2 separate regions of the Homo sapiens genome follow, and region 1 is linked to region 2. The links come from fine-mapping of genetic effects on gene expression. A gene starts in region 2. The other region holds a variant in brackets. All regions are shown on one strand. Distances are between the middles of the regions. Region 1 has its middle 29 kb from the start of TGILR. Region 2 holds the start of PXDC1 (PX domain containing 1).

What was found.
Region 1: its variant is fine-mapped to the expression of PXDC1 in tibial nerve (GTEx, PIP 0.99).

The regions. Positions count from the first base shown.
Region 1 is chr6:3,882,038-3,884,937 of GRCh38, reverse strand. No RefSeq gene overlaps it. Among named protein-coding and RNA genes, the nearest start is that of TGILR, 29 kb to the left of the region's middle. The variant T/C (reference allele first, on the strand shown) is at 1,693.
Region 2 is chr6:3,750,222-3,753,121 of GRCh38, reverse strand. It overlaps PXDC1 (PX domain containing 1), which reads left to right and starts at 1,409. Exons shown (of 5, transcript NM_183373.4): 1 at 1,409-1,846. The coding sequence starts at 1,591. RefSeq lists silencers at 896-1,065, 1,116-1,355, 2,106-2,185.

The DNA of each region.
Region 1 (2,900 bases), 130 kb before region 2:
AGTCTACATCAACTTTTTAGCTCCACAGTTTAAGTTAGAATTACAAGTTTGACTGACACTCCAGCACACAAAATCCTCTTAAATGTAACAAATAAGGAAAAGGCCAAATATCCACAGATTACCTCCTAACCCCAAGATATCAGAAATAGATTTGATTCATCTTCATCATTTCTACACTTAATGCTGTCTCTTTTCAGGATTACAAGTCATTTTCCCACTAAAAAAAAAAGATTCCGAATAAATTTGGAGTTGAATTTTCAAGTGAATTTTTGGGGCCTCCTTACCAGCTGGCCGAGGTTGCATCATGAGCAGGGATGTTAGCTTGGGTGCAGGAGTTAGAAGTAGAGAGGTCAGGATGATTTTTGTTGATTTTGTACTTGCTAAGTCACTGTCTTGCAAAGGTCAGCTCCTAGTCCTGGCCCCTACATTCGGTCATATGTCACCTGCTTCTGTACACTTAGACATGCCTGCAACCTTGCCAGGTCTCTGTAGCACATGGCTGGATTTAACAACATCGTTTCTGGTCTAATTCTATTCTAAATTCTTTTCATATTCTGCACATTTGCTGCAGCTGTAACTTCCAGCCACTGCTCAAAGATGAAGATGGGGCTTAAAGCTAGACAGTGGAGTGAGGCTAGCCAAGGTCAGAACTGCAGAGATGGCAGGTGTGTATGTGCTGGGTGAGGCCAGCTTGTTGAATGTTGCCATGGCCCGTCCTCCTCATTCGCCTCTGGGAAACACAGGAGGAAACTGCACAAACAGAACCTGTGTGCATCTGAGCAGCTGCATCCTCAGAAAGATCTGGCTAAGGCAGTGACATCATGAAACTGGAATTTCTTTCACTCTGGAGGAAGTGAAAAGAGCTGCAAATGGATCTTTAGGGACTGGTTATTATTCCCTGTTTTAATGGACATTTCTTTCATCTTAAAGTGCATTAAAAAATTGACGTGGCAATATAAATACCACCTTCCCCTCCACCTTTTTTTTTTTAAGCAAGATGTCTCTTGAATTTGTATTTGTTTTGCTACTTAAAACCAAATCTTTAAGGAAAGCCAATGCAAATGCAAGCTCTTCAGTGCTTATGGTCACTCAGTGGACTCCTTAGTTCCCAGCAAGCTCTAGCTGCCCAACTGAACTTCTCTTTGTGGGTTTTCAGAGGGCTGGGGAATGGAAATGGGTTGGTGTGGTTCTCCAGTTTGCTCGTTCTTTGCCGTATGGCAGGCTTTTCACACACAGATGGGCTGCTGAATGTTCTATCATTGCAGACTTGCCTCCAGACCCAGGTATATTTCAAGAGCAGAAACCATTGGCACAATCACCCCTTATTCTGTTTGTGGAAGAAAGTTGCCATCCACACAGAAAATTATAGTTTTGGCCGGGCGTGGTGCCTCACAGCTGTAATTCCAGCACTTTGGGAAGCTGAGGCGGGTGGATCATGAGGTCAGGAGTTTGAGACCAGCCTGGCCAACATGGTGATACCCTGTCTCTGCTAAAGATATAAAAAATTAGCCAGGCGTGGTGGCATGTGTGTGTGATCCCAGCTACTCGGGAGGCTGAGGCAGGAGAATCACTTGAAGCCGGGAGGCGGAGGTTGCAGTGAGCCGAGATCACACCATTGCACTCCAGCCTGGGCAACAGAGCAAGACTCTGTCTCAAAAAAACAACAGAACAAAACAAAAATTATAGTTTCTA[T/C]ACATGTGGGTTTGGAATTTGAACAAGTTATTTTATTCTGGGAATGCTTTATCATCGCCTAAAATGACGACTTCTTTCCTAGTTGTGATTTCTCTTTGCCACGTTACCAGGAGGCACAGAAGGCACAGGGAGGAAAGTTCTGGGTTTTCCTCTTGCGAAACTGAGAAGCCACATTAGGGATGAGGCAGTCATCTGAGCCAGCATCTTGTCTGGAAATAATTATGGCTTGCTCACAAAGCTGTGGAAATCTGCAATGCAGAGAAATACAACATCCTTGCAAACCCAAATAAAGGGCAGCAAATCCTTTTGGACACAGCTGTGCCTAAGACTCCCGGAGTGAAAGGAGCAAAATTGTACCTATGACCCACTGTGTCTATTGGAAACCCTAGAATCAATGTCATGTTCATCACCCTGTTAAATGGCAACAGATTTATGAGGAGAGAAGCTTCCAGAAAGACTGCAGAATTATCTTTTTTGGTGCAGTTTGGGACTTTAATTCTCAAAGGATTAAAACCTGTCCAGGTTCTTCTGGTGTGTTCCTTCCGTCTATACAAGGAGCATGTGATTCTTTAAAAATGTTGACTTTGCAGATCCCAATAGTTAGGTGGGAAATTGAGACACCAGAGAGGCATGAGGTTCCTCATTTAGTCTGGACTCAGTTCCTTTCCTAAATTAAAGGAAATGTACCATGCTGCTGACTTTGTGAGTTTGCTTTCAGTGCATGCTATGTGTGAGGTTGGAGAGAGTATGGGATCAAGCAGTGTTGGGAACAGGCCCCCCCGCAAAATCTGGCCATAAACTGGCCCCGAAATTGGCCATAAACAAAATCTCTGCAGCACTGTGATATGCTCGTGATGGCCATGACGCACATGCTGGAAGGTTGTGGGTTTACCGGAATGGGGGCAAGGAACACCTGGCCCATCCAGGGCAGAAAACCGCTTAAAGGCGTTTTTAAACCACAAACAATAGCATGAGTGATCTGTGCCTTAAGGACATGCTCCTGCTGCAGATTACTAGCCAGAACCCATCCCTTTATTTCGGCCCATCCCTTGTTTCCCATAAGGAATACTTTTAGTTAATCTATAATCTATACAAACAATGTTTATCACTGGCTTGCTGTCAATAAACACGTGGGTAAATCTCTGTTCAAGGCTCTCAGCTCTGAAGGCTGTGAGACCCCTGATTTCCCACTTCACGTGCTGTATTTC
Region 2 (2,900 bases):
CAACGGCACTTATTCCCACCACCTAGAGTCAAGAGCTGCTGGCACACTGGCTGTTTACTTCCAGTTCCCACGGCCCCTATTCCCCTATACAAAATTACACAGGAAACATATGCGTTCATTTAATTAGCAAGTGTATATAAAAACATCATAGACAAAGCAAAAGTCTCTCTTGACACTCTCCATCTTGACCTGTTCACCGCCCCAGACCAGGTGAGGAAATTTGAAGCTATGCTATCTGCAAGTCACTGGCGCAGTCGGAATAAAAGTTGGTCGTGGTGGGGGCGGGGGGGGGGTGGTCATCTGGGTCGGGACTGAGTCGAGGCAGGTGGGACTGAGTGGTAGGGACCTGGGGGGACATCTGGGTCGGGTCTGAGTCCAGACAGGCCACCTGCCTTGGGCCTCTAACATTTCCGCGCAGCGCTGGGCTTTGAGGCTTTCCAGAGCGCTGCCGGGGCGGGGGCGGGGTGAGGTGAGGGGCTCACCCTGGCTCTCCCACCCCTGCCTACGGGCTGTGAGGTCACTCGATTCATTTCTGGAACTAACTTGTAATTCTCAAACAAGTGCTATTAATTCTCTTCCAACTAGGAACGGCCTCAGTAACGCGCCGCTGAGTCAGTTTTCAGGGCGGGCGGTTTCCCCAAGTCCACTCCTGAGGCCCCTCAAGAGCACCCACCGCGTCCAGCTTCCCAGGGCGCTCCTTCCCAGGAGACCTTCTTTTCGCCACTGTTTTCTCCCCTCTTCCCACTTCTCCGAGGGCTGCCCCGCGGTCTGTCCGGCCGTGTCCCAGGCCTTGGCGCGGCTGAGGCATGACCGGAATGCGCGGGAGGACGCGGGGCACGGAGGGGACCTGAGGCACGGAGGGAACCCGGGGCGGGCCGGACTGGCCTGGGCCCTCGTCGGGGCGGTGCTCGACCCGGCCCGCGCCCCCCGCCCCGACACTCGCAGCCCCGCCTCCGGACCCCGGGTAGTTGCCATCCCCTCGCGGGCCGGGTGGGGCGCGCAGCTCCTAGCCCTGGGAGGTCCCGAGGATCGCGAAACGGAAAGAGAAAAAAGTCTGCGCCGAGCGCCTGGCAAGCAGGGCCCGCCCCGCCTCCCTTCCCGGCTGGTCCAGTCACCGACCTGCGGCTCCGGGGCCGCGAGGGAGGAGGCGCGGGGGGCGCGAGGCGGGGGCGAGCGCTTGGGACTCGGCCCGGCTCCCGGCTCCGGGGGTTCTCGTGGCCGCGGCAGCGCGGTCTCTGCGGAGGCGGCGGGGGCGCGGCCAGCCGGACCTCTTCCTTTCCAGAGCGGCCCGCGGCGCCCGTTCCGCGGGAGGCGGGCGGGAGGCGGACGCGGCCTAACCTCGACGTCGACTACCGCGCCGCCCGCGATGGGAAGCGCCTTATAAAGCCGCGCCCGGCCGGCCCGAGCCACTCGCCGCCGCGCCGCCCCGCTGCCCCGAACGCGGGCCATACGCAGCCTCCTTGGAGTGACGGGCCGACCCCGGACGACCCCGGCCACGGACAGACCCGGGACGACCCCGGCCGGGGCGCGCCTCCTGCGGGCGGGCGGGCGGCGGGGCTGGGGAGCCCTTGGCGGGGGCATGCGTGCGACATGGCCTCGGCGGTGTTTGAGGGCACGTCGCTCGTGAACATGTTCGTGCGCGGCTGCTGGGTGAACGGCATCCGCAGGCTCATCGTCAGCCGGCGCGGCGACGAAGAGGAGTTCTTCGAGATCCGCACGGAGTGGTCGGACCGCAGCGTGCTCTACCTGCACCGCAGCCTGGCGGACCTGGGCCGCCTGTGGCAGCGCCTGCGCGACGCCTTTCCCGAGGACCGGTCCGAACTGGCGCAGGGGCCGCTGCGGCAAGGTGCGGGGCCGGGGACGCGGGAGGGGCGCGGGGCCGAGGCAGCCTTGAAGTGCACGAAGGAGGCGGGGAAGAGACTTCAACCGAGATTGCGACTTCTCCTTTCTGCCCGCCCTGGACAGGGGACACTTGGACCCCGCGCCCGCAGACGAGGGGTGCCCGGGCGGCGGGGTTAGGGGGACGGGGAGCCAGCCTGCCCAGCCTGGGGGCGCCCCCGGCGGAGGAGCCAAATGGGGCGGGAAAGGGGCCGAGGCCGGCAGGGCGGGCGCCGGACTCTCCCTGAGGACGAGTCACTTCCGAGGAGGGCGGGGGCGCCCGGGGCTGAGCGGCTCACAGGGTCGGCCCGGCCCTAGCCCCCTGCCCGGTACCTCCCGAGGGCCGGCGGGCGGGCGCACTGGGAAAGCGTCTGGGAGCAGTTAACTGCAGGGTCCGAGCCGGGGGTCGCGTCGGGTCTGGCCGCCGCCCCGAGTTCTCCCCGCGGAGGGCGCGCCCCTGGTCTTCGAGCGCGAGGTGCCACGCAGCCCTTCCGTCCCTCCTCGGAGCGGCCGCCCCGCCCGCGGCTGCCGCGGACAGCCAGGGCCCCCCCGCACCCCCGCCAGGGCTGGTCCCCATTCGCGTTTGATCAGCTGCGCCGCCTCCTCCCCGGCCTCGTGACCGTCCTGGCTCGCGGGAATTCTTGTTTTCAGAAACCGCGGTGGCTTCCCTTTTCCTACCGCTCTGCCCGATCTTTCTTTTGGAGGCCAGGCTGAGGGGGTGGAAGCCGGGAGGACGCAAGAGAGAGGGACTGGAATTGAGACGGGAAGAATTGCGGGGTGGAGGGGGCAGGCCGAGGAGAGGGGCCGCCTGGGAGGGCCGGGAGGGGAGAAGGGGCGGGAAGACTGGAGGACTTCCGAGCAGGTCCCACCCCCCTCCATGGGTGACCACCTGTAGCTCGGAACATTGGGACAGTGGCCCAGCAGCCTTCTTTTCTGCAGTCCTCCTCTAAGCAGAGACCTCCTGAAAGCTTGGGGCCAAGTTACTGAAGCAGAAGGTGGCCCGTCCAAGTCTCCCCAGCCTC